Regions from separate parts of the Homo sapiens genome. Here region 1 is linked to region 2. Evidence: fine-mapped expression QTL. A gene starts in region 2. The other region holds a variant in brackets. All regions are shown on one strand. Distances are from middle to middle.

What was found.
Region 1: its variant is fine-mapped to the expression of MPDU1 in whole blood (TOPMed, PIP above 0.99). The same link has a PIP of 0.9 or more in blood mononuclear cells.

Annotation. Positions count from the first base shown.
Region 1 is chr17:7,611,602-7,621,996 of GRCh38, reverse strand. FXR2 (FMR1 autosomal homolog 2) reads left to right here and starts at 7,100. Exons shown (of 17, transcript NM_004860.4): 1 at 7,100-7,545. The coding sequence starts at 7,465. It also overlaps a transcript of SHBG not described here and the pseudogene TRUND-NNN6-1. RefSeq lists silencers at 2,079-2,279, 6,856-6,905, 7,016-7,545. The variant C/T (reference allele first, on the strand shown) is at 5,913.
Region 2 is chr17:7,578,572-7,587,089 of GRCh38, reverse strand. It overlaps MPDU1 (mannose-P-dolichol utilization defect 1), which reads right to left and starts at 3,238. Exons shown (of 7, transcript NM_004870.4): 1 at 3,125-3,238; 2 at 1,293-1,358; 3 at 1,012-1,144; 4 at 313-398; 5 at 73-191. The coding sequence starts at 3,227. It overlaps CD68 (CD68 molecule), which reads right to left and starts at 7,452. Exons shown (of 6, transcript NM_001251.3): 1 at 7,364-7,452; 2 at 6,763-7,280; 3 at 6,505-6,624; 4 at 6,307-6,379; 5 at 6,024-6,194; 6 at 4,979-5,712. The coding sequence starts at 7,412. The coding sequence ends at 5,579. MPDU1-AS1 (MPDU1 antisense RNA 1) reads left to right here and starts at 2,998. Exons shown (of 2, transcript NR_136402.2): 1 at 2,998-3,172; 2 at 4,927-5,116. It overlaps EIF4A1 (eukaryotic translation initiation factor 4A1), which reads right to left. Exons shown (of 11, transcript NM_001416.4): 11 at 8,084-8,518. It also overlaps SENP3-EIF4A1. RefSeq lists enhancers at 1,793-2,665, 2,900-3,429, 2,666-3,540, 3,540-3,589, 3,541-4,414 and 2 more and a silencer at 8,263-8,451.

The sequences.
Region 1 (10,395 bases), 34 kb before region 2:
GGCATGGTGGCGCATGCCTGTAATTCCAGCTACTTGGGAGGCTGAGGCAGGAGAATCGCTTGAACCCAGGAGGCGGAGGTTGCAGTGAGCCAAGATTGCGCCACTGCACTCCAGCCTGGGCAACAGAGCAAAACTCCATCTAAAAAAAAAAAATTAAAATGTCTCTCAAATCTGTCCATAGCTCTATCCTTACTTGCAAAGTTCTCACTCTTTGAAAATTGCCACAACCTCCTTACTGGTCTCCCAGCCTCCTTCTGTAATTTCTCCCCCAATTCCATGGGATTTTTTTTTTCACAGATATACATTATGTACTTTATTTTATTATTTAAATTTAATTTATTTCTTTATTTTGAGACCAGTTTATGCAGCTGGTTTTTTTTTTTTTTTTTTTTTTTAGACGGAGACTCGCTCTGTTGCCCCCAGGCTGGAGTGTAGTGGCATGATCTTGGCTCACTGCAACCTCTGCCTCCCAGGTTCAAGTGATTCTCCTGCCTCAACCTCTTGAGTAGCTGGGATTACAGGCGTGCACCACCACGCCCAGCTAATTTTTGTATTTTTTTTTAGTAGAGATGGGTTTTCACCATGTTGGCCAGGCTGGTCTCAAACTCCTGACCTCAGATGATCTGCCCGCCTCAGCCTCCCAAAGTGCTGGGATTACAGGTGCGAGCCACTGTGTCAAGCCCATAATTTTTGTATTTTTAGTAGACATGGGGTTTCTCCGTGTTGGCCAGGCTGGTCTCGAAATCCTGGCCTCAAGCAATCCTCCATCCACATAAATGATAATACATTTGCCCACGTGGCGATCAAATCCACAACCTTGGTGTTAGCACCTGGCTCTAACCAACTGAGCTAACTGGCTATTGCAAATCTTGATTTTTTTTTTTTTTTTTTTTTTTTTTTTTGTGACAGGGTCTTGCTCTGTTGCCCAGGCCAAGTGCAGTGGTGCGATCATGGCTCACTGCAACCTTGACCTCCTGGGCTCAAGTGATTCTCCCACCTCAGCCTCTCAAGTATCTGGGATCACAGTCAGGTGCTATCAAGCCTGGCTAATGAAAGCAAAATTTTTGTCTGGGCACGGTGGCACATGCCCGTAATTCTAGCACTCTGGGAGGCCGAGGCAGGTGGCTCACCTGAGGTCAGGAGTTCGCGACCAGCCTGACTACCATGGTGAAACCCTGTCTCTACTAAATACAAAAAAATTAGCTGGGTGTGGTGGCACATGTCTGTAATCCAAGCTATTTGGGAAACTGAGACAGGAGAATCACTTGTACCTGGGAGGCAGAGGTTGTAGAGAGCCGAGATTGCACCATTGCACTCCAGCCTGGGTAACAAGAGCAAAACTCCGTCCCCCAAAAAAACAAAAAAAAAAATTATTAATCTGGGCACTGTAGCTCACGCCTGTAATCCCAGCACTTTGGAAGGCTGAGGCGGGTGGATCACTTGAGGTCAGGAGTTCGAGACCAGCCTGGCTAACATGGTGAAACCCCACCCGTCTCTACTAAAAATACAAAAATTAGCCAGATGTGGGGGCAAACGGCTGTAATCCAAGCTACTTGGGAGGCTCAGGCAGGAGGATCTCTTGAACCCGGGAGGCAGGGGTTGCAGTGAGCCAACATCGTGCCACTGCACTCTAGCCTAGGCAACAGAGTAAGACTCTGTCTCAAAAAACAAACAAACAAACAACAAATTTTTTATTGGAGACTAGGTCTCACTATGTTGTCCAGGCTAGTATTGGACTCCAGAGCTCAAGCAATCCTCCCACTTTGGCCTCCCAAAGGAGGGAGGATTACAGGTGTGAGCCACCACGCCTGGCCAGTATTACCACTTCTTGATGTCTCTTTTTCTTTTTCAATTTTTTCAATTTTTTTTTTTTTTTGGAGAGGGATAAGGAGTCTTTACTTTTTTAGAGACAGGGTCTTTTTCTGTTGCCTAGACTGGAGTACAGTGGCACGATCATAGCTCACTGTAACCATGAACTTCTGGCCTTAACTGATCCTCTTGCCTTGGCCTCCCAAAGGGCTGGGATTACAGGCATGTGCCACTGCTCTTGGCCTTACTTCTTAAGGTTGAGGCTGAAGTGGGGCATGTTTGAGCCACTGCACTCCAGTGTTTTTTGTTTAGGCATTAGCTATTGGCTTTGCACTGTTGAGGATGAAAAGCTAGCCCTTCAGAACACGGATCACTGAGGTTAAAAAAAGAGAAGCACTATTTTTCCAATCTGCTTATCATCCCACCTCCACTTCCCATCCTCCTGTGTTTAGTGTTTACTTTTTTTTTTTTTTTTTGAGACGAAGTTCCGCTCTTGTTGCCCAGGCTGGAGTGCAATGGCATGATCTCGGCTCATGCAGAGGCAACCTCTGCCTCCCGGGTTCAAGCAATTGTCCTGCCTCAGCCTCCTGGGTAGCTGGGATTACAGGTGCATGCCACCATGCCTGGCTAATTTTTGTATTTTTAGTAGAGATGGGGTTTCACCATGTTGGTCAGGCTGGTCTCGAACTCCTGACCTCATGATCCGCCTATCTTGACCTCCCAAAGTGCTGGGATTACAGGCATGAGCCACCGCACCAGCCTTAGCATTTACATTATTATGATTTTTTTTTTTTTTTGAGATGGAGTTTCACCCTTAATGCCCAGGCTGGAGTGCAATGGCGCGATCTTGGCTCACTGCAACCTCTGCCTGCTAGGTTCAAGCAATTCTCCTGCTTCAGCCTCCCGAGTAGCTGGGATTACAGGCATGTGCCACCACACCTGGCTAATTTTGTATTTTTAGTAGAGATGGAGTTTCTCCATGTTGGTCAGGCTGGTCTTGAACTCCTGACCTCAGGTGATCTGCCCACCTCGGCCTCCCAAAATGCTGGGATTACAGGTGTGAGCCACCATGCCTGGCCTCATTATTATGATTATTATGATTATACGAATACACGTATGATCCATGTGGATAGTTACAATTCTTTTTCTTTCCTGTACCATTTTTGTTTTCCCTGGAATTAATAACTGCCTTGTCCTCTCTGTTTGCTTAGTTTCCTGTGTACTCTAATTTATCCCCAAATTCTCCCTTAATTAATCTCTTATAAGGATATACAAACACTTAGGGATTTCAATCTACGTCATTTTGAAGAACTTTCTCAAAAAGCTCTTAGACCTGCTCCAGTCCAGAGAGGCGATCTTGAGGCTGCGCAATTGGGATCTCCCTTCACCTTTATCCTGGGGATCCCCTTTGCCTCTCTCTTGTGTTGACGTCCTGTTTCCTGGAACCTGTGTTTCCTCTTTCTATGTTTACTCTTCTTATTTTGATGGAGCTTTTTGAGAAAGAGTACCGGGAGGTAAATTTGTTGGGAACTTAAAAGCCTGAAAATGTCTGTTCTATTACTGCACTTAATTGAGAGTGTGGGCCGGGCGCAGTGGCTCATGCCTATAATCCCAACACTTTGGGCAGCCGAGGTGGGTGACCCACCTGAGGTGAGGAGTTTGAGACCAGCCTGGCCAACGTGGTGAAACCCCGTCTTTACTAAAAATACAAAAAAAACAAAAACAAAAACAAAAACAAAAAAAACAAACCTAGCCAGCTGTGGCAGTGGGCACCTATAATCACAGCTACTCAGGAGGCTGAGGCAAGAGAATCACTGGAACCTGGGAGGCAGAGGTTGCAGTGAGCCGAGATCATACCACTGCACTCCAGTCTGAGTGGCAGAGTAAGACTCTATCTCAACAACAAAAAAATATTGAGAGTGTGGCTAGGTATAGGAAACGAGGTTGGAAATAATTTTTTTTTTTGAGACAGAATCTTTCTCTGTCACCCAGGCTGTATGTAGTGCAGTGGTGTGATCTCGGCTCACTGCAACTTCAGCCTCCCAAGTTCAAGAGATTCTCCTCCCTCAGCTTCCTGAGTAGTTGGGATTACAGGCACACGCTACCACGTGTGGCTAATTTTTATATTTTTAGTAGAGATGGGGTTTCACCATGTTGGCCAGGCTGGTCTCAAACTCCTGACCTCAGATGATCCACCCACCTCGGCATCCCAAAGTGCTGGGATTACAGGCGTGAGCCGCCGCACCCAGCTAATTTTTGTAGTTTTGGTAGAGAAAGGGTTTCGCCATGTTGCCCAGGCTGCTCCTGAACGCCCGAGCTCAAGTGATCTGCCTGCTTCAGCCTCGCAAAGTGCCAGGATTACAGGCATGAGCCACCACACCTGGCCTTGGAAAATTTTGTTGAATAATTATTACTATTGATTTTAGATGATTTTATCCTTTCCAGATAATTATTTCTGTTATCACTTTCTGGAATTCTGGTTATTCAGATGTTGTATCCCATGGACTAATCCTTTAATTTTCTTATACTTTATTTTCCTTTCTTCTATCGCCTTTATTTATTTTTGTTTTTTATTTTAATTTTTTGAGATGGAGTCTCGCTCTGTCACCCAGGCTGGAGTGCAGTGGCACAATCTTGGCTCACTGCAACCTCTGCCTCCTGGGTGCAAGCGATTCTCCTGCCTCAGTCTCCCGAGTAGCTGGGACTACAAGCGCGTGCCACCATGCCCAGCTAATTTTTGTATTTTTAGTAGAGATGGAATTTCACCAGACTGGTCTTGAACTCCTGACCTCAGGTGACCTCAGGTGATCCACCCGCCTCAGCCTCCCAAAGTGCTGGGATTACAGGCATGAGCCCTGTGCCTGGCCATGGTTGCAATATTAATAATTATTATAAATATTAATAATTTTTCCAGTGTCTTTCTTCTGCCATCACACTATGAAGTCAGAGACTTCCAAGTCTGTTTGTCTCCACCATTAAATACAAAAATTTAAAAATTAGCCAGATGTGGTGGCTAAGCTCAAAGGGCAAAAAAAAAATAAAAGTAAATTCATCACCTTATTTTCTAAACCTTTATCTCCTATGTTATCTCTTCCATGATTGGCATTACCATTTACTCTAATCCAAGAAGTGGATGGAACATAGGACAACTCCCAGAATGTGAAGTTTTCCTGCTACTACCCTTATTTCATGACAGTTTTTCCTATTTTGAATTTCCCCAGCATTATTTATTATTATTATTACTATTTTTTGAGACAGAGTGTCGCTCTTTTTGCCCAGGCTGGAGTGCAATGGCACAATCTGGGCTCACTGCAACCTCTGCCTCCCAGGTTCAAGCAATTCTCTTGCCTCAGCCTCCCAAGTAGCTGGGTTTACAGGCATGCACCACCATGCCCAGCTAATTTTTGTATTTTTAGTAGAGATGGGGTTTCACCATGTTGGCCAGGCTGGTCTTGAACTCCTGACCTTGTGATCCACCCATCTTGGCCTCCCAAAGTGCTGGGATTACAGGCGTGAGCCACCGCGCCGGGCCACTATTATTATTATTTGTTGTTGTTGTTGTTGAGATGGAGTCTCGCTCTGTCGCCCCAGCTGGAGTGCAGTGGCACGATCTCCGCTCACTGCAACCTCCGCCTCCTGGGTTCACGCCATTCTCCTGCCTCAGCCTCCCGAGTAGCTGGGACTACAGGCGCCCGCCACCACGCCCAGCTAATTTTTTTTTTTTTTTTTTTTTTTTGTATTTTTAGTTGAGATGGGGTTTCACCGTGTTAGCCAGGATGGTCTCGATCTCCTGACCTCGTGATCCGCCCGTCTCGGCCTCCCAAAGTGTTGGGATTATAGGCATGAGCCACCGCGCCCTGCCATTATTATTATTTTTAAAGAAGAAATTTCACTCATTGCCCAGGCTGGAGTGTGGTGGCATGATATCCACTCACTGCAACCTCCACCTTCCTAGGTTCAAGCGATTCTCCTGCCTCAGCCTCCTGAGTAGCTGGGACTCCTTCCGAGTAGCTGGAACTACCACGGCTAATTTTTTGTATTTTAGTAGAGACGAGGTTTCACCATGTTGGCCAGAATGGTCTCCATCTCCTGACCTCGTGATC[C/T]GCCCGCCCGTGATCTCGGCCTCCCAAAGTGCTGGGATTACAGGCCTGAGCCACCGCGCCCGTCCTAATTTTTGTATTTTTAGTAGAAACAGGGTTTCGCCCTGTTGAGGCTGGTGTCAAACTTTTGGGCTCAAGTGATCCACCGCCTGAGCCTCCTAAAGTGCTGGGATTACAGGAGTGAGCCACAGCGCCCGTCTGAAACTATTCTTAAAGCTTTCTTTCTATTCTTTCTTTCTTTTTTTTTTTTTTTTGAGACTGAGTCTTGCTCTGTCGCCCAGGCTGGAGTGCAATGGTGCGATCTTGGCTCACTGCAACTTCTGCCTCCCAGGTTCAAGGTAGTCTCCTGCCTCAGCCTCCCGAGTATCTGGGATTACAGGCGCGTGTCACCACGCCCGGCTAATTTTTGTATTTTATTAGATGCGGGGTGGGGGGGGGGGTGGGTTTCACCATTTTGGCCACGCTGGTCTCGAACCCCTGACCTCAGGTGATCCGAGGACCTCAGGTGATCCACCTGCCTCGGCCTCCCAGAGCGCTGGGATTACAGGCGTGAGCCACCGCGCCCGGCCAAAACTTTCATTGTATCACAATCTCTTCAAGGTAAGAGCCATGACTGTTAAATCTACTACAGTAGAGAGTTACAGATTCTTAAAATATCGGCGATGCATACGCGAAGAGGGTAAAGCTCAGCGCGTGCGCACCAAGCACCTTTTTCCTTGCGGCGACTCCTCTTCTTTTTTTTTTCTTTTTGGAGCGTGCGCACCAAGAAAGACAAAGGTGGGGAAAGTGACCAAGCAGTCGTTCAGGCGCATGCCCATCCCTAACTTGTCCAAGCCCGGTGGGGCCAGCGGCGGCGGAGTGGGTGTGGCCTGAGCGCTGTGTGACTGTGCGGACGCCGCCCAATCGGACTGAGCGAGCCCGGCCCCTCCCTCCCCCTGATTGGTTGGTTCTCAGTGTTGTGGGGCGGGGAAAGGAAGAGACGGGGTGGCTGGGCGGTGGAGCGGTGAAGAAAGAAGGCTAATCTTGTTCTGCGCAAGCGCTAGCAAGCGACCAGGAGGGGGAGTGAGAGAGTGAAAGGGAATGTGGAAGCCCCGATGCGCTAGCTGGCGCTAGCTGGGGCTCTAACCTTGACGCCTGCGCGGTGGCCCTCGGGGCCCCGCGCGCAGCGGGCGGGTGCCCGGTGCGCCTGCGCAGTAGGCGGCGGTGGCAGGGGGAGGTGGAGGCTGTGGAGCGGCAGCGGCAGCAGCGGGTCCCGGGACTGAGGCAGCAGCGGGGGCGGCGGCGGGCGGAAGCTGAGGTGACGAAGGCAGCGGCGGCGGCGGCCGTTTCCCTCACGGTGGCGGAGACCAAGGCGGCGGCGGCGGACGGGGAGCGGCCCGGCCCCGGCCCCCTGCTCGTTGGCTGTGGCAGGGCCGCCGTGGGGCCGGCCCGGCTCCCGCCCCCCGCGGCTCCCCCTCCGGCTCCTCCTCCGGGGAGACGCCGGGGGCCTGGCCCGGCCCGCACTCAGACTGCTGCTGCAGCCGCCGCCGGGGGAGTCGGAGGCGGTGGCGGCGCCATGGGCGGCCTGGCCTCTGGGGGGGATGTGGAGCCGGGACTGCCCGTCGAGGTGCGCGGCTCCAACGGGGCCTTCTACAAGGTGAGACGGCGCGCCGACTGGGGACGCCGGTCCTTAGCCCCCTCCCCTGGCCGGAGCAGGAACGCGTGGGGCGGGATCGAGCTTCTGGAGCTGAGTCCTGGCCCTTAGAATCTTGGACCCTTGCTCCAACCCGCAGCCTTCCCTGGGAGACCGCTTAGAGTGAACCCTGTTCCTCTTATTTTTGACCCCTCTAAGGCACCTGCACCTGCTTCTACCCCCATCTCCGGGAGAATGAACTTCAGGCCATTATTGTCCCTGGCTTGGCGCTCCCCGCTCCGCAGGAGAGACCCCTTTACCCAGCTTCTAATTGACTGTGTCCGTTGTCTGGTGGAAGACATACCTTAGACCTTAATCACATCTTCCCCACGATCCAAGCACATGGAGAATTGTCTTTCTTCCACACGGTCCCTTTGGGAAGGCCCTCTGTCCCGTAAAAGATCCTTTCATCTTCCTCAGAGAGGCCTCTGCCTACTGGCTCTGGAACACTCACCCCACTTTCATCTTATATTCCGGTTCCCAAGCCAAGGAGAAATGGTCAGATCCATTTACGACGTTTGGCATCTTTGACCTCAGGAACCCTGGGTTGGATCAGTCAAGTTGCTTCCCAGCCAGCCATAAGGTGGCATCTTTCGCAAGTCTCTCTCCCCACCACACCTTGATCTCAAGACCCACTGCTCTACCATTCTACTCAGGAATGGATTTGAGGTCTCACTTAGACCTCAGATACCTTCAGGTCATTCATATAGTTTCTTCGTCTTGAGGCATGTAAGCTTCATAGTCATAATCTCTAAAAGGATCTCTGAAAGGAAGCTTATGAGGTTCCCTTCTGTTTATCTTAAGATTTCCACTTCTTGAAGACTCTTGGCCAACTATCCCAGTTCGGGAATCTGACAACCTTTTTTGGAAGACGGGATCATCTTTCAAAGACCCTTCCTTATTTCACCTCCCCCTTTGCCCAGGATTTGGTTCCTTAGAACTCCTTATAATACCACCTTCCTTATCTGCTCTGAATCTATTTTCTAGGACATTTTTTTCCCATTTAGATTAAGCCAGAGAGAGCCCTTTCTTGCCTCCCAAGAGTTTTTCTTTGTGTGACTGTTGGTATTCTGAACCTCTTGGATTTGATGCCTGGAATTGTCCTAGAGACTCTCCTGATTTCTGTCTCATTCTTTGATTTCACCCTGGGGAGCTGGGGAAGAGATACCTTCCCATGGCATCACTTGTTAAGAGTGGATCCCCCTTCCCCCTTTCCTTCAGTTCCCCTCAGGCCTTTTTCCCCCACTGTAGTCCTCTCTAGTTTCTCATGCCCTTGGAAATGTCTTTCTTTGACTCCTTCTCTAAGTCATATTTTTCTATAACTGCAGAGGGTCTTGTAATTTCTCTTGGGTGGTTTCTGCCTGTACTTCAGTTGCTAAGTGCATTGTAGTCATTTTTTTTTTTTTTTTTTTTTTTTTTGAGATGGAGTCTCGCCCTGTTGCCCAGGCTTGGAGTGCAGTGGTGCGATCTTGGCTCACTGCAAGCTCCGCCTCCCTGGTTCGCGCCATTCTCCTGCCTCAGCCTCCCGAGTAGCTGGGACTACAGGTGCCCACCACCATGCCCGGCTATTTTTTTGTATTTTTAGTAGAGACGGGGTTTCACTGTGTTAGCCAGGATGGTCTCGATCTCCTGACCTAGTGATCCACCTGCTTCGGCCTCCCAAAGTGCTGGGATTACAGGCGTGAGCCACCGCGCCCGGCCATTGTAGTCATTTTTTACTCACTCTTCATACTTACCCATTTTTGCCTTACTTCCCTCATCAGATTTATTTCTCTGCGGTGACTGTGGGTACCCATGTCTAACTTACCTTCTCAATTCAAGTTTTTAGCTTTTTCTCCTAATATTTCTGTATTCCTGTGTAATCCCCAGGAATCACCTTATTCCCTGTCTAGCTGAAGGAAGCTCCCTGCTGATCTCTTTTTGTCATTTTGTGCATACTTGCCTAACTCTTGGGACTTTTTCTTCTAGCCTGCCTCCATAGCATTTCTGTTTTCTTTGGCAAAAGTCTCTAATTCCTTTCTGCTTTTGATAGAGCACATTTGTCTCTCATATCCTTTTCCCCAAACTTGCATTACCTTTGTTGAAATAGCTTCCTAAAGTGGCCCTCCCTGTTTACCTTGGTATCTTTTCCTTCATCTGGGTCCTTACCACCCCCAAATTCTGAGTTCCAAGAAAAGTGATTCTTAAGTTGAGTCCAAGATCAAGATATGATGTTTGCTTTGTTCTAGGAAGCGTAGGAGCCCTGCACAGCTGAGAAAGATTGGTATCCAGTTCAAATGAACTGTATGAGATGGCTGGGAAGGGACACGTTTTCTGTCCCACATATAAGTGTCCAGCAGAAAGTCTCTCTGAATCTTTTCCCTTTCTCCTGTGTGCTGTGGCAGTGATAGACTTGAATAGATGGGGACCAGGATACTGTGATTCAGAGAGTAGAGTTTGGGGTTGAGCTGAAAGCCAGGTAATGTGGTAATGTGGATCTGGGCAGGTTAGCATTTTCTGCCCTGTTCCTGAGTTAAAAACCACAAATCCCTAAATTCAGGCTAATCTTCCACTCTCAGTACCCTACAGATACTTATCCGTTTTGACCTTGCTGCTGATTTAATATTCATGACTCAGCAAACTTGGGATGGGTCAGGGAGTATTTACACTGCTTCTGGAATTGTACATTTGGGAAGGTCCCTTTCTCCTCTCTCAGAATTGGGCCCTGTTGTCAGTTTTCTTTTCTTTCTTTTCCTTTTTTTTTTATTTGAGACAGGGTCTCCCTCTGTCATCCAGGCTGGAGTACAGTGGCGTGATGTCGTCTCACTGCAGCCT
Region 2 (8,518 bases):
CACACTTTGATCTTCTACTCTTCCCCCCCACCCTGCCCCCACAACATCTTGTCCCTTGCTCCTGGTACCCACCCTCCCCACCACCACAGCAGGCACATTGGAGGCCTGGAGCAGGGTGACTACAGTCAAGGGCGTCAGAGGTGAGAGAAGCACCAGCAGGACCAGGCCGTAGCAAGCGAGGAAAGCGACACCTAGGGGTGGGGAGACAGGAGTCCTTGTCAATCTCTCCACATCATTTGGCTTTCCCAGACCTGAGTTCCCAGCAGGGTTCCCAGGAACCACACAGCCTGCTCTTGGGTAAGTCCCCAGCACCTTTCACAGTCTGTCCTCTGTAGTGCATGACCAGGAAGCAGATGGTGATCGTCTGGAGCATCAGGAATAAGGCTTCACCCCAAGAGCTGCAGAGTCAAGAGTTGGGAGGAAGAAAGGCGGGCCTAGAAAGAGGCAGGGAAAGCCTCCATAGCCCATCCATCCAGGGACACTATGCTCTGATCACGCTTCTCTACAGCCCCCACACGGGACTGGCTCATTCTGAATCGTGGCCATTCTCGGGATGCTCACCCCTTCTCAAGATCACCTCCACTGGTGATGATTAGGTTTCTAAAAGGGCTTAAAACTTTCCTAGCCCCTTGTCCCTTTTTTTTTTTTTTAAGACTGAGTTTCGCTCTTGTTGCCCAGGCTGGAGTGCAGTGGCGCAATCTTGGCTCACTGCAACCTCTGCCTCCCAGGTTCAAGTGATTCTCCTGCCTCAGCCTCCCAAGTAGCTGGGATTACAGGTGCCCATCACCACACCCAGCTAATTTTGTATTTTTAGTAGAGACGGGGTTTCACCATGTTGGCCAGTTCGAACTCCTGACCTCAGGTGATCCACCCGCCTCGGCCTCCCAAAGTGCTGGGGTTACAGGTGCAAGCCACTGGGCCCGGCCACTTTGCTGCCTTGTAACCTCCTTCACCTTAATCCCCATTAGAGTTGTGGGTATTACCCTTGGGGTGGAAGGGTGGGCCCCTCACCTGAATGGGAAGTTGTTAGTGATGCTGTAGACCATGGTCCCAGTCAATGCCACTAGCTCCAGCATTACAGACTGGAGACTCAACCCTTCAGCACTCTTGGCTCCCAGGATTTTAAACACCTGGGGCAGCTTTACTAGGGGAAAGATGAGAAAAGTAGGACTGAGGACTCTCCATTCTTTGGGATGCAACACAACAGCTATAGAACGAACACCCACACAGTTGATGGCCTCTCAGCACCTCCACCCCAACCCAACAGCTGGAAAGAAAGATAAGAGACATACCTAGAAGTGAGCCAGCCACAATGCCCAGCCCCAGGCCTTTGCTGAGGAGAATCTTGAGGCAGGGGACTGAGGAGAGAAAAAAGGGTAAGCAGACAGGAGATGTCTGAAACCCAGGCCAGGGCTTGAAGCTCCTGTGGGCTCTCCCCGAGCCCCCTTACCCACACCAGGGTCTTGCATTGTCTTGGGGGGAGGAGAGGCGGAGGGCAGTGAGAAAGTCCTGGTCCTTCCTGCTCCAAACCACCACACTTTTTTTTTTTTTTGGAGACAGAGTCTTGCTCTGTCACCCAGGCTGGAGTGCAGTGGCCCAATCTCAGCCCACTGCAGCCTCTGCCTCTTGGGTTCAAGCAATTCTCTTGTCTCAGCCTCCCAAGTAGCTAGAATTACAGGCACACACCACCATGCCCGGTTAATTTTTGTGTTTTTAGTAGAGACAGGGTTTCACCATGTTGGCCAGGCTGGTCTCGAACTCCTGACCTCAGATGATCCACCTGCCTCAGCCTCCTTAAAGTGCTGGGATTATAAGCTCGAGCTACCGCACCGGGCCCCAGACTGTTACTTTCCAAAACAGCTTTTCTCCGATGCCTACCACCCCCCACATCCAATCTTCCATTCCCTATAAATTAACACCCAAACTTGGCTTGACCTCCACGGCTCTCCATTGCTTCCCCATATAAAGCTGAGAAATGCCCAAGAGCTCTCTGATCCTTTATTTCCCTTCTCTGGGCCAATGGGTGCCCCATTTCACATGTCTTCTCTCTCCAAAGACAAGTCTTCATACCATTTTTTTTTTCTTATTTTAATTTTGAGACGGAGTTTCACTCTTGTTGCCCAGGCTGGAGTGCAATGGCACGATCTTGGCTCACTGTAACCTCTGTCTCCCGGGTTTAAGCGATTCTCCTGCCTCAGCCTCCCGAGTAGCTGGGATTACAGGCGCCTGCCACAACGCCCGGCTAATTTTTTGTATTTTTAGTAGAGGCGGGGTTTCGCCCTATTGGCCAGGCTGGTCTCGAACGCCTGACCTCAGGTGATCCACCCGCTTCGGCCTCCCAAAGTGCTGGGATTACAGGCGTGAGCCACCGTGCCCGCCCCATACCACTCTTTCTTGAACACTCTGACTGTCCCTGGCCCCTACTCAGGGACTAAACCTTACCCTTTCAAGGCTTGCTTTTATGCCCTGGCCATCCACAACTTCTCTAGCCTTGAAGCCTTCCCCTCAAGGAACTTGGTCTAGTGGGAGTCTGACTCTCACGGGTCATGAATGCGGCTAAAACAAAGTGCCCCACGAGCTCAAGAGAGGTACCATGAACTGACAGGGGCAGACTGACGCTCCCCAAACGGTCTGACGGTGACCCTTGTGGAGCTGTCTCGCAATCAGAAAAAGGAAGGGAGGCAAATTATTCCGAAATCAGACTATGAGCAAACCTGGAGGCTGGAAAGAAAGCAATCAGGGTGGCGGAGCCTTTGGGGGTGCAATGAAGGCCCGATTCATCAGGGGCTTTGAATTAAGTTTAACCCTGCTAGCGATCTAATAAAGGTTGGCATGATTTGACTTAATTTTTATTTTGTTTTATAAAAGTTGACTCTTCGTTTTTCATTGTCGCTACAGCACAAACTCCACAAAGAAGTAATTCCACCCGGTGACTTCCCCACTGGCACTAATATGGTGTCCTCCCTCTAAGGAGCCCGAGACACTTCCGCCCTTCTCAGAAGTGACTTCCGTCCAGCTCGGCATGGCGGCAGTCACTGCCGTCACTTAGTCGCCGATCAAGGCTTGGACTAAGGGCCCACGGTCACTCGAGTAGGACTTGGATCGGATGCTGAATAAAACTCACCGTGAAGCAAGTCCCACTGAACGAAAAGTTGGTCGTAGCATTTCTCAGGTAAAAGAATCGGCACGAGCAGCCGTTTAAGCGGTCCGTCCGCCTCGGCCGCCATATTGCAAAGCTAGCTTCCGCCAGTCTCTCCAGACCGCCATTGACTTTCGTTGCGCGTGCGCGCTGCGGACACTCCGCCTCCCGTTCTTTTCCCGCGGCGAAGCTGGCCCGCCCCGTGCCCCGCTCTTTCTGACGCTACCCACCCTCACTCTAGTGGCGTAAAATAAGTCTCAGTCAGGGACCACGTTTTGGACGCGCTGTTGGAATTGTAAAGCTTGCCGAAGCTGCACGCCTGCGCGGTTAGACCTCCCACGCCTTTGTTGACGCTTCCAGTTTGGAAGCCAGATTTACACCCCTGCCTTTCTCCGCTCCTCCTGCTGGGCGCCATCTTGTCTTCTCCTAGCACACTTTGTATTGTTCGAAGTTGAGAGAGAAGGAGCCGGAGTCTCCGAGGTGGCGTTGGGTGGGGGCGCTACTAGCTCCCGTTCTCTCAGCGTCTCTAGAGGGAAGGGCGCCGGTGGGAGCAGGAGAGTCTGCACCGGGCAGGCCTCCTTAGGTGCCGGGTTGCGCGCAGGGCCCTGTGCTTGTCTCGCCTCCGGTTGGCTCAGGCCTCGGAGCATGAGTGCGCCGGCAACTGCTGGGCCCGGGACAGTGAAGCAGAGGAGGAGGTGGGGGAGGCGAGCCCAGGTCGGGGAAGGGCAGCACCTGAATCACCCTTGGGGCCCAGACCCCCAAGAGTCTCCGGGGAGCCGAGGCCTGGCGAGGCAGTCCCGGGATTCGCCCCCTCCCCGCTGGCCCGAGGGCGCACCACGTGCTGGGCAGAGACTTCGGCGAGGCCGAGTGGACCCTGCAGCGCTGCTTGGGAAAGGGCACCTTGGACTACCTGGTGGGGGCGTTGTGCTTCGTTACCGACCGCCGGGACGCCAACCCACGGTGCCCACCCGTGCGTCATTCCGCTGTGGATCAGCCCTTTGGCGGCCCCCCTCCAAAGTCTACAAGGTCACACGGATGTCTGCAGGCAGAGGTGGGGCTGCTGGGGCCCTGCCAGGTGAGGGCTGCCCTTGTGGGGCAGTCTCTGGGCCTTGGAGGCCGGAAGCCTCCTGGGGCTCCTACGGCTGGGGGGTGCTGCTCATCCTGGCTCCCAGGGATTGCGCCGTAGCCAGCTGTAATGGGTGGGACTGGCGCTCACTGCTGGTGCAGGCTGTGGCCATCTGGGAGGTCCTTTCTGGAATCTGGACCTTGGCTGTCCTGAGAGTGACACTCCTCATCTCAAGTACTGGGGGCATGAAGTTAGGCTTGGCAGGTGGCCCCGTGTGGGGGGCATGCTGTTCCCAGGAGCCCCCAGTGGAGGTCAGAGTACCCACTGCTCCTTCTTGATTCAACCCCTTGTAGGTGGGATAGGAGCATGCCAGGTGCTGCGAGGGTTTAATCGGGCTCTTCTGCTGGCCTTGAATATGGTGGACAGGACAGGACATTCTCATTGCTCAGGAGCCACTGGCGCTGCCTTTGGGAATGAAGTTCCACAGCCCCCCACTCATTGCTTTGGCTGTCTGCTGCATTTGAAACTGTACGAGGGTCAGGAAGAAGGCTGCGGGGATGAATGGCTCTACCGGCTTGCCACGGATGGGGAACTGGAGCAGCCAGTGGCCCCAAGAGGAGGAAGGAAGGGAGGCACGGCAGACCCAACACCAGCTGTGCCAGGCTTTGGGGGGTGAACCCATGAGGCATCGTCACACACTGACATTTTCATCCCTCCTCAGCAGCTGCTTCCGGCTCCCTGAGACCCAGCCATGGAAGGCATAGAAAGGCATGTGACAAGAAACTCATGGCTTTTAATCCTGGCAGGACAAGGAAAACCCCGTCAAAGATTTGCATAAATTTTGCTGCTCTCCTGCTGGGGGGGGGGGGGGGGCAGTTCGTCACATTTAATAAAATTCTCTCCCTCCCTTCTCCCGACTGCATTATCTCATATTTATTTATTTGAGACAGTCTGGCTCTGTCGCCCAGGCTGGAGTGCAGTGGCGCGATCTTGGCTTAGTGGCGCGATGACGGCTCACTGCAACCTCCACCTCCTGGGTTCAAGCAGTTCTGCCTCAGCCTCCCAAGTAGCTGGGATTACAGGCCAGCTGGGATTACGCCGCCACACCTGGCTAATTGTATTTTTAGTAGAGACAGGGTTTCACCATGTTGGCCAGGCTGGTCTCAAACTCCTGACCTCCAGTGATCCACCTGCCTCAGCCTCCCAAAGTGCTGGGATTACAGGCATGAGCCGTCATGCCCGGCTTTCTTTTTGTTCTTCAAGAAAGGGAAGGAAAATAACATTGTCTTTGAGCCAGTTGCGTGTCGAGGAAATAAGGGTACCCCCCCACCACACCCCAACCCCCTCAGTGCCCTGGGGTTTGAAGCAAATGCTCAGAGGGCCTGGTAGGCGGATGGGCGTCTCCGGATGATGCAGAAAGCAATAAGCACCAGGGCGAGGAGGCCAAGAAGGATCAGGCCGATGATGAGAGGCAGCAAGATGGACCGGTCACTGGGGCAGGAGAAACCTGGCGGAAGGATAGGGCAGGTAGGTATTTGCAGTGACGTGCTGGTTGGGATAAAGGTGGGAGGAGGGAATGGGGGGATGCTGGGGAGTAGGAGATTGGTGAGGAGCTCACCGCAGTGACTCAGCAGTGATAAAAGGGGGAAACTGGCAGAGTCTTGTAGAGGATGGAAAGAAAGCTGCCCTGTAGCCATGACAAGCTGGGAGAGCGAGATTTGGGGGGTTAAGAAGAGAGATGAGTGGCTTATGGGCCTGGGGAAGGGGTTTTCAGTGCAGTGGGAGGATTCTAGGAGGGAAGGAGTAGGTAGGTCTTACTTTGCCCAAAGACCCCTGTGTGGGGCAGCTGAGCAGCCTGGAGCCTCAGGGAGAGCAGGTCGAGGTGGACAGCTGGTGAAAGAATGATGCTCGAGTTGCTGCAACTGAAGCTCTGCCCCAGGGGTGCTTGGAGATCTCGAAGGGATGCATTCTGAGCCGAGAATGTCCACTCTGGAGGAGTGAGGAAGGGTCAGATCCTATCCACCTCCCTGGCCCCAGCTTAGTCCTTTCAGGAACCCTGGCGTCTAGTGGTAGCAATGAGAAAGGGAAGGAGGTTACTTACGTGCTGCGTGGGGGAAGGACACATTGTACTCCACCGCCATGTAGCTCAGGTAGACAACCTTCTGCTGGAGGTCCTGTGGGGCGAAGAGGAAGGCGCAGGTGGTATCCCTCTCCACAGAGGAAGGAGTAGCGTGTGGGATTGGGAGGGGAGGGGCGCCGGGAGGCTGAGTGAGGGGTGAGACTGAGGTCATGGCTATACCTGCATGAATCCAAAGCTGAGGTGTCCATAGGGGAATGAGAGAAGCAGGTGGGGATGGGCACCCTCACAGCTTCCCTGGACCTTGGTTTTGTTGGGGTTCAGTACAGAGATGCCCCAGGCCTGCGGAAGTTAAAGACTGGAAGGTCACAAGACTGCATGCGATGCCGGCCAAGGTTCCCTGTCCCCTCTTCCTTCTTCCCTCTGAGCCTATATCCAGTCCTGCCTCCCTCCCCTCTCATCCCCCAGTTTTAGCTTTACCTCTCCTCCACCCTGGGTTGTGTACATGACTCGAATCTGAATCTGGGCTTGGAGGTGGACACAGGGCTGGGAACCATTGGTCCACGTGTAGTCTCCAATGGTCTCCTTGGAGGTTGGGCTAGGACTCGGAGAGGGTGGAGGTGGTTCTGGGTGGGCAGAACTGGTGAATCCTGGGCTGGTGGCAGTGCTGTTGCTTGTTGGATGAACCGTGGCATTTCCATGACTAGTGGTGGCAGGACTGTGAGTGGCAGTTGAGGGTCCCTGGCTGGTGGCAGTGCTATTGCTTGTTGGATGAACTGTGACGTTTCCATGGCTGGTGGTGGTGGGGTTGTGAGTGGCAGTCGTGGGTCCGTGGCTGGTGGTGCCTGTGGTGGTTGTCCTGTGAGTGGTGGTTTTGTGGCTCTTGGTAGTCCTGTGGCTGGTTGTTCCAGTGCTCTCTGTAACCGTGGGTGTCACCGTGAAGGATGGCAGCAAAGTAGCTGATTTTTTGTGAGGACAGTCATTCCCTGTCCCCTGGGCTTTTGGCAGAGAGGAGATGGTTAGCAACCCAGGGCAGGCTCCCTCCCAGGGGCCCCCTCCCCTCAGCCTCCTTCCTCCTTACCTGCCAGTAGCCCCAGCAGGGCCCCCGAGAAAAGCACAGCCAGCCTCATGGCTGAACCGCCTCACCCAAAGTCCAGCTAGGCTGTCTGCACCAGTTGCTCAACCCTGCTCCCTCAGCCCTCTCTTGGAAAGGAGGAAATGAAAGTCTCACTTCCTGTACTGGAGATGATCCCACCCACAGCCTGACTCAGGGGCCTCAGCTCTAGCCACCTCTCTCTTAGTCATTAGTTTTTGTAATTAAGTTAGGGGACTGTTGGCCCTGCTTCATCAGGGCAAAGTCAACAGTGTCACATGGGTGCAAACGGAGTCCTAGGGCAGTTGATCCACAGGGATCCATGTGTCAAACTCAGCGAAACTTGCTTGGCAGTTGTGGCAAGTAGCTATGGGAACAGCTGAGGTACAGGCCCCTCCCTTGGTGGGGAAATCGGTTTCCACTCCTTTCCCCTGGACCTCTGGGCTGACCCCTGTACTACTTCCTCTTGGCTGAGGCATGTGAGGGGCTTGTGACCATCCACACCCAGCCCTTTACAGAGGGGCAGCACTCCAGTCAGCATTGTCATTCACAGAGCCGAGAACATGGCTTTCCAGCGTCTGAGAACTCAGATGGTGACAAGAAAGCAACAGCCCAAAGGTAACCATCTGCTGGGGAAGGGGGGAGCAGAGATGCACCCAGTAGCAGGTGGGAGAGGGAAGGGGAGGTAAGAAATGAGAAGCCCAAACAGGCAGTTTCCAAGTCATTTTATTCAGAATTTTGTGTTTGTTTCCTGAATCAATAAATACTATACAAAACAATGTAAAAATGGCTACCATTTTCTCTCCCCTGCTTCCCCCCACCTGGGGACAACCCCCTGGGCAACCTCACTTAGGGGTTTTAGGGGTTCTCCCTCCAGATTTGGTCCAGCAAATGAGGCTGAGTGACATAGTCCCTTGAATCACTTTCAAAGGAGCTCAGCTGAGGTGAGGAGAGCCTCTGGGATCTGGAGGTTACTAGGTTAGGGAAATGGATTAGTGTTTTTTTTTTTTTTTTGGGAGAAGAGCCGGCGCCTGGGGCAAGAGCCTACCCCAAAGAAAAGGGTGTCTAAAATGTTCACGGTTCCTTCTTTTGCCTCAAAAAGTGACATTTATTCAAAGAAAAAAAATGACAAGATGTCCATCC